Linked DNA regions of Homo sapiens: all the other regions are linked to region 3. The links come from fine-mapping of genetic effects on plasma protein levels. Region 3 holds a variant in brackets. A gene starts in each other region. All regions are shown on their forward strands.

Region 1 (2,844 bases), not on the chromosome of region 3:
AGATGAAGGGGGTGGCGGGTACACTGTGTGTGCATTTGTCAGACCTCATTGAACTTAAGAACCTGTGCTTTCTACTGCATGTAAGTTACATTGCAAAATAAGAAGTCCAGGCCGGGCGCCGTGACTCACACCAGTAATCCCAACACTTTGGGAGGCCAAGGCAGGTGGATCACCTGAGGTCAGGAGTTCGAGACCAGCTTGGCCAACATGGTGAAATCCCATCTCTACTAAAAATACAAAAATTAGCCAGTCATGATGGTGTATGCCTGTAATCCCAGCTTGGGAGGCTGAGACAGGAGAAACACTTGAACCCGGGAGGTGGAGGTTGCAGTGAGCCGAGATTGTGCCACTGTACTCCAGCCTGGTGACAGAGAGAGACTCTGTCTCAGGAAAAAAAAAAAAAAAACCCAAATACTCAAGCTCAGTGTGATTGCCTGGGCCAGAGAAGGATGGTCAGTGGGCCATCTCCTCCTCATCAGGGACCAGAAGCGCCACGGCCTTAGGGTCCTTCTGTGAAGAGGCCAGTATGAGGCTGTCCTTTCTCCCCTTCAATCCCCATCCTCCCCCAAGGTCCCTTTGAATAAGCAGGCAATAGAAATGTGTTTGTTGGGCCAACAAGCCAAGCACAGCAGCCCCTCACCTCTAGTCATGTTCCCTCCCAGATGGAAATTCTGCAGAACTGCTACAGCCTGGGGACCTCCTGAGACTTGGCAGCCTGTGTCTGGGAGGGCTCTGGTCCAGGAGACCCTCACTGGCCTCTTCCCAATCCCTCCTCTAGCCCTATACCTATTTCACCCCGAATTCCCCTCTCCTGAGCCCTGGGCCAGAGAGGCCAACCTCTTGTCTCTCCCCTCTGACCCCTTACACAAGCCACCCAAGGAAGAACCACCACCCCTATCAGGCCCTTCCAAATCAGATCTTGCATAGAATCATCGAATCACAGGCTGGCAGAGCTGCCAGAGCCATCAGGAGCTCTCCAGGTCCTCCCAACTCAGTGTAGGTCTGGACCAGCAGTGCCGGCATCTCACATCTCCCAGGAGTGTGTTGGATATACAGAATCTCAGGTCGCACCTGAGACCGACTGAGTCTGAATCTGCATTGTAACAAAATCCTCAGGTAACTTGTATGCACAGGAAAGTATGAAAAGCACTGCTCTGGTCTAGTCTATCACTGTCCCCCTGCCCCCAACACCTGCAATTGAATAGAAGTGGACACTGAAGCCTCAAGAGTATCAGAGGCTTGCTCAGGACACACAGTGAGTCGCTGGCAGAGCTGGGACAGATCCACAGCACCAGGTGGACCAGTTCCACCACACCCATCTCTTTTCACCCCACTACCTCTCCAAAGCAGATACCCACAAGCCTGCAGTCCAGTGTTGGGGAGACTAAAACAGCCTGAGGACACCCAGTGAGGGGCAAGGACTGAATCCTTTCACAGGGGTCTTCTCCATCACACCCCAACAAAGTCCCCCACCCCCCGTTCTGCTCTTACCATGCCAAGCTGTGGCCACCAGCAGGAGCAGCAGAACTCCTGGGCCCATGGCCTCGGTGGGGAAGTGGCAGGCAGGTGCAGGGCTGCAAGGTGCCCAGGGCACAGAGCTCTCAGCTACTAGCTCCGCAGGGATCGGGACACTGGACACACGTTCCTCTCCTCTGCACTGGCTGTTTGTCTTGTTTTCCTCTTCCTCCTCCTTGGGCTGATCCTCTTCTTCCCCTTTTAGCTAGGCAAGGCAACCACAGAGTTTGGAAATCTTGGGTCTTTAAGAAGAAAACAAAGCCTTGAACCCAAGAGGGAGGGGTCGCAGTCTGGGGCAGGGCCAGCCTGAGCTTGGGGGGAGCTAGCTAAGTTTGGGGCCCTTCTAAAGCCATCTTCAAGGGGTCTTGGGAGAAGAGACATGTCCAAGAGCAGCCAGACCGTTAGTCAGTAGCACAAATGAGGGTCTTCAGAGTGATCAGGTGGCTCTGGCAGATCCCAAAGAGAAGTTAGGTTGCATGATATTGTGACATATATATTTTTTCTTTACCCTGATGTCCTGGCTTACAACTCCTAAAATCCTTGGAATCTCCAAAGTAATGCATATCTTTTAAAAATTTATTATTATTATTTTAGAGACGCAGTTTCACTCTGTTGCCCAGGCTGGAGCTCTGTGGCTCGATCATAGCTCACTGCAGCCTCAAACTCCTGGCTCAAGCCTTCAAGCTGTGAGATCTGACGTTATCTCTAGGTAAATATAGTGTTCAAATTGAATCGGAGGGCACCAGATTCGTGTCTGCTGCAGAATCTGAACAATTGGTTGATTGCTTGGTGTATGGGGAAATATGCCCCATCCTCTACATCTGGGGTCAGAAGTATTTTGTGTTGTGAGACTATAGGAGAAACGGAGTTTGTTTTCTTCCTGTATACAGGTTGGTCTGGGAGAGCCTGATAATATTGGCAATAAGCTTCCTTTTACAGGACATTTACTAGCCAAACCTTTTACATTCACTGTCTCCTTTAGTACTGCAAAACTTTATGTAGGTAAGTACTATTGTCATTCTCATTTCACAGATGGGAAAACTAAAGCTCAGAGAGATCAAATGCCTTAAGCTTGTCCATAGTCAAACAGCTACCAAATGGTGGAGATAGGATTTGGATCCCAGCAGTCTGGTTATAAAACTATCTTTTGTGCGTTACTTACATTGTTTATTTATTTTTACAAAGAATCTAATTGTTCTGCATAATTCTTAAAATATATAGCATTCCTTTGCTCCCTCTTTTCCTGGAGGCAATTGCTTTTACCTCTTTTAGTTGATTCGCTTAGTATTTTACTTCTTATCTCTAAAGAACATGGTCATTTCTTCTTCT
Region 2 (2,844 bases), not on the chromosome of region 3:
GGCAGAGGCAGTTTCCCTATGGACAGCTAGGCCCGGGTGTAGGATTCAGTTTCTGTTTCCTGACACCAAGGCTTCTCCCCAACTTCCCCATTGGGCTAGAGAAGGAAGAACACAGGGTGACATGGCCAGCTGGAGGTTACTGGCCCACAGATAGGGAGTCAGGGTACGGATGGGCAATTCCTGGAGCAGATTATGGTCAAAATAGTGGAAATCCCCAATCACAGGCCAAATGTTTAATTCTCAGAGCCATAGAATCCATAACTAATGCTTATTGGCTTTGACATGGGCAGTAGAAATTTCACACTTCATTCCTTAATCTGGCTCTAAATGCTTCTGGCTGGAGTGCTCACTCTCCAAACTGTGCTGGACAGCACCAGAAGCCCTCCTGTGGACGGACGAAGTGGTGATGGATGAAGTGGAATTGTGCTGGGGTTAGAGTAAGGAGAGATTATCGTTGGGCTGGGCTGGGGCTGAGGTCAGGGTGATGATCAGGTTGGAATTCTGGAAGCAAATTAAGGCTGGGATTGGGGTGGACATTGAGGTTGAGTGATGGGTGGGGGTAAGGGTGAAGGTTGGAGTTGGGTGCAGGTGATGGTTAAGATACGGTGGAGGCTGGGTTGAGATGAGGATGATAGAGTCGGAGTTGTGGTTAGGGTTGGGATGATGGATGGTTGGGATTAGATGAGATGAGTAAATGGTTAGGGTTGGGGTGCAAGTGAGGTGAGGGTGAGATAAGGTTGGAATAGGGGCTGGGGCTGGGGCTGAGGTAGGGTCAGAGCAGGGTGATGGTCGGGACTGGGATTGGGATGCAGGTTGGAAGGATTTGGGGGTGGTGGAAGGGTTTCAGTTGAGTCCATCTTTGATTAGTGTCTTGGACTTGGGTTGGTTTGGGGTCCACCACTCGCACCCAGATGGAGCCCCCCCCCGACCCCTGCCCCTATCCCGCTCAGCCAGTTTCAGCCCAGCCCCGCTCCTAATGCTCCACTCACCCTCTGGGCCCAGGGACCAGGGACAGGGGTACCTGCTCCACAGAAGGAAGTGGCTGCGGCGGTGCTGGACCTGCGGAGAGGAGAACAGGAAGGACGGCCAAGAGCTCCTGGTGCAGCTGGCTCCCCAGGGCTCTGCCGGCTCAAGAGAGAAGGATCCCGTATCAGGGGCTGCTTCCTCTTTCCCAAAGCCTCAGCTCTACTGTCCAACCCAGAGGCTGGTCAGGGAGGCAGCTGCAGGCCTTGCGCAATGCCAAAACGGGAAAGACCTCCATAGGGGAAGGCCCTCGGCAAGGCCAGGGACTTAGGGACTCCAGCAAGCAGAAGTGGGACCGCTGCAACGCTGGAGCCTCCCCAGGCAAAGTGAGAAATGGAGTGGGGGACTCCCATTCACCAGCCAAATCCACACCCCACTCTCTCTGAGCCCCTTAGGGAGGCTGGGGGAGGTGGAAGGGGGCTTCCTGCACACAGCTCTCCTCCCTGACACCTGAGAGGGAGGCGCGCCCAGCCTGGGGTGGGGATGCACTACACGATGCCCAGACCAAGGCAGTTATTCTCCAAGCCATTCAGGAGCCTCCCTGTACCACTGAGTACTCTTAAGAACCCCCAAGAGGCAGTCCCGTGTTGTGGGGGACATAAGGCCCCAATGTCCAGGACACTCCTCAGGTTTTCTCTTTCCCCTCTCACTGTCCTGTACGTTTTTTGGTTTTTGGCTTCTTGTTGTTGGTTTTTTTCTTTTTGTTTTGTTTTTGCTTTTGAGATGGAGTCTCACTCTGTCGTCCAGGCTGGAGTGCGGTGGCACAATCTCAGCTCACGGCAACCTCCACCTCCCGAGTTCAAGTGATCATCTTGCCTCAGCCTCTCGAGTAGCTGGGATTACAGGCATGCACCACCACATCCGGCTAATTTTTGTATTTTTGGTAGAGACGGGGTTTCACCATGTTGTCCAGGTTGGTCTTGAACTCCTGACCCCAAGTAATCTGCCTGCCTCGGCCTCCCAAAGTTCTGGGATTACAGAGGTGAGCCGCTGCACCCGGCCACTATCCTATACCTTCACCCCCACCTTGGGACAGGAAAGGAAAGCCCCCACCACAGCTAGTTACTGTTACATTACTGCAGCCCATCTTATTGAGGGCCTAGTTTGTGCAGGCACTTGACATGTGAAGCAGATGTTAATTGCTCCAAGCAATCCCAGATACAAGCAACAAGACTTTTTTTGGTTTTTGTTTGTTTGTTTGTTTTTGTTTTTTGAGACAGTGTCTTGCTCTGTCGCCCAGGCTGGGGTGTCCTGGTGCAATCTTGGCTCACTTTGGCTCACTGCAGCTTCGAAATTCTAGGCTTAAGCAATCCTCCTGCTTCAGCCTCCTAAGAAGCCGGGATTACAGGCGCTTGCCACTATGCACGGCTAATTTTTTAAGTTATTTTGTAGAGACGGAGTCTCCCTATGTTCCCAGGCTGGTCTCAAACACCTGGGCTCAAGTGACTCTCCCACCTCGACCTCCCAAAGTGCTGGAACTACAGGCGTAAGCCACCACTCCTGGCCATTTTTTTTTTTAATTTCACAACTCAAACTTAATTCAACTCAGTCCCTGCCTACCTGTACTGGTGGGGAGCTGGCCACAGCAAATTAGGCCCCTGTACCCTGAGGGCAAGGCCACGTGTGCAGGTGTAAAAGGATGTGAAACCCTAAATCAGGGTGGATCCAGAATCGCAGGCCATGGTGCCCCAAAGCAGATGTCTGGTGACATTCCACCCTGAAATGCTCAGGCTACAGAGATATTAGGTCTCTATCACTCTGTTCCTCTTTATAGCTCCTGTGTCCACTCCTATGCTTGGGCCATTTCCTCTTTCGGCCAAA
Region 3 (2,500 bases):
TACACACAGAAGGAGCAGTGGTTAGTTAAGTTCTGACATCCCCAAAATAAAGCTTGCTGAGAACATAAACACTTTTAAAGTTATTCTTTTTGCTTCTCTAGAGTTTTTATTTATTTTTTTTTTGAGACGTAGTCTTGCTCTGTTGCCAGGCTGGAGTGCAGGGGCGCGATCTAGGCTCACTGCAACTTCCGCCTCCCGGGTTCAAGCGATTCTTCTGCCTCAGCCTCCTGAGGAGCTGGGACTACAGGCGCCTGCCACCACGCCCAGCTAATTTTTAGTAGAGACAGGGTTTCACCATGTTGGTCAGGATGGTCTTGATCTCTTAACCTCGTGATCCACCGGCCTCGGCCTCCCAAAGTGCTGGGATTACAGTTGTAAGACACCAAACCGGATCTTTTTTTTTTTTTTTTTTTGAAGGAGTCTCGCTCTGTAGCCCAGGCTGGAGTACAATGGCGTGATCTCGGCTCACTGCAACCTCCGCCTCCCAGGTTTTCAAGTAATTCTCCTGTCTCAGCCTCCCAAGTAGCTGGGACTACAGGCGTGTGCCACCACACCTGGCTAATTTTTGTATTTTTAGTACAGATGGGGTTTCACCATATTGGTCAGGCTGGTCTCGAACTCCTGACCTCAGGTGATCCACCCACCTTAGCCTCCCAAAGTGCTGGGATCACAGGCAAGAGCCACCATGTCCAGCCTCTCTAAAGCTTTTTTGATGGTGGGTGGGGTGGGAGGGAGCAGTTACAAGGGTTTTGTCTGTTTTGCTTTTCTATCAGGGCTCAGATGACCTTAAATTAGACACAGATATCAAAAAGTATGATCTTCCTCTTTCTACAACACAGTGCTGTTTCTGTGGTTATGTAGAAAGCCAGTCAGTGACAAGAGCAGGCCTAGGCCCAGTTCTTCCTGAGTGGCTCAGGAATCTGCTTCTCCTGTGCTCTGTTCCCGCACATGAAGTCCTTATCCAGGAACTCCTGGAATCTGAGATTGTTTCAGAGCCTCTCTGTACCCACCCAGTCACAGCCCCCCTTCCACACCCATCCTATCGACCAATCCAGCTTTCATGCTTCCAAAGGCATACTGACTAGAACACTGGCCCTAACAGTTGAGGCAGTGTTTCTGAAAATTTGCTAAAATAAAACTTCTTTGAAACTTCAGACTTTATCCTGATTTAGCAAAATGTATAATGATGAACTTATGTTTTAACATATTTTCAAGTAGTAGAGCATCTGGGCTCTCATCCTTCCAAAACTTTTTGTATTTTAATATTTCAGTGGTTATGAATTGTGAACTCCTAAGGGATACAAAGTCAGCACTGATGAGAAATGTCAAGAATCAGGACGTGCCCCAAAGCCTTCCTGTGGGTTCTCTAAAGGCTGTGGTTTTGTGTGACTCTGAGTG[C/T]AGCTCCAAACCACACCCAGCTCTTTCTGGAATCCAAAAAGACCAAACCCATCACATAAATTAAGGAAAACTCTAACTCAGACTTTGAGGGGGAAGTCAGCCAAACCATACAGAACATATGAAAATAAAGATGCAATTATTATTTTCAAATATATTCAGGAATTCTGACTGTAAGGATCCTCAAGCAAAGGTCCCCAGGGGGTCTGCTTTAATGAACCTATTCGTAATTAGGTGTCATCACTTAGGTGCTGAGTCATCCACCTTTGGCACACCTCATACTACTGTCCACATTATTAATGTGAGGGTTTGAACCAAAGGTGGCCAGGCCAATAAGGTTTTCTGATAATCAGTGCTTTTACAGAAATGGATTCTTAGCTATTTCAGAGGGAAGTACATGCCAAGCTGACATGATTTGGTTTTGCTGTCTCTGCTGCTTTCTCTCCCCTATCTGCCCCAAGCCCAAACCTGCCAGGCTCCTTGTGAAACAAACATGGTGCTGTGGCAAAGAATTAGGGCATCACGGGCCCCTTCCTTGTTCACCACTGTGCTTCAAGGGATGAATCAAGAGGGGTCAGGGTATAAACCTGTGTGTTTCAAGAGAAGAAGATACACACACGGAGAGGGAGGAAGGGTGAAAGCGGGGACGGAAGGGTATAGAAGGATTTCTGAAGAGTCTAAAAGTAAGGTTACATTCAAATTTTCCTCCCTTTAAGACAAGAAGTTAGGATTTTTGATCTGGGAGAAGGACTTCATACATTCCTATATTCCCATCACAGCTCTCATGCTCCCAGCAAGGGAGGACAGGAAGAAATGATGAGAATAAAATGAGTCTGACAGAAAGCTGTTGCATCTCAGCAGGTGCAGTAGTTCATGCCTGTCATCCCAGCACTTTGGGAGGTCAAAGCAGGAGGATTGCTTGAGCCCCCAGGAGTTCAAGACCAGCCTGGGTAACATAGTGAGACATCTCTAAAAAAAAAAATTTTTTTTTTTTTAAATCAGCCAGGGGTGCTGGCCCACACCTGTGGTCCCAGCTACTAGGAAAGCCGAGGTGAGAGGATCACTTGAGCCAGGGAGTTTAAGGCTATAGTGAGCCATGATCACG

Which allele goes with the higher level. Alleles are on the strand shown, and positions count from the first base shown. The strength of an association depends on the size of the effect and on how common the allele is.
For the plasma level of the protein whose gene starts at base 1,667 in region 1, C is the high allele of the variant in region 3 and T is the other (moderate association).
As copies of C replace T in region 3, the plasma level of the protein whose gene starts at base 1,152 in region 2 goes up (weak association).

Evidence for each region. PIP is the posterior inclusion probability: the model's chance that the variant is causal. Protein levels are from antibody-based Olink assays in UK Biobank. Linkage for the fine-mapping came from a reference panel and not from the study's own genotypes, which makes the PIPs less certain.
Region 1: it holds the start of CSF1R, and the variant in region 3 is fine-mapped to the plasma level of the CSF1R protein (UK Biobank, PIP 0.95).
Region 2: it holds the start of SIGLEC1, and the variant in region 3 is fine-mapped to the plasma level of the SIGLEC1 protein (UK Biobank, PIP 0.99).

Annotation. Positions count from the first base shown.
Region 1 is chr5:150,084,888-150,087,731 of GRCh38, forward strand. CSF1R (colony stimulating factor 1 receptor) reads right to left here and starts at 1,667. Exons shown (of 21, transcript NM_001288705.3): 1 at 1,492-1,667. The coding sequence starts at 1,540. RefSeq lists a promoter at 1,540-1,972 and an enhancer at 1,725-1,754.
Region 2 is chr20:3,711,449-3,714,292 of GRCh38, forward strand. SIGLEC1 (sialic acid binding Ig like lectin 1) reads right to left here and starts at 1,152. Exons shown (of 22, transcript NM_023068.4): 1 at 1,022-1,152.
Region 3 is chr9:33,116,128-33,118,627 of GRCh38, forward strand. The region is part of intron 3 of B4GALT1 (beta-1,4-galactosyltransferase 1); the gene reads right to left. Among named protein-coding and RNA genes, the nearest start is that of MIR12117, 8.7 kb to the left of the region's middle. The variant C/T (reference allele first, on the strand shown) is at 1,399.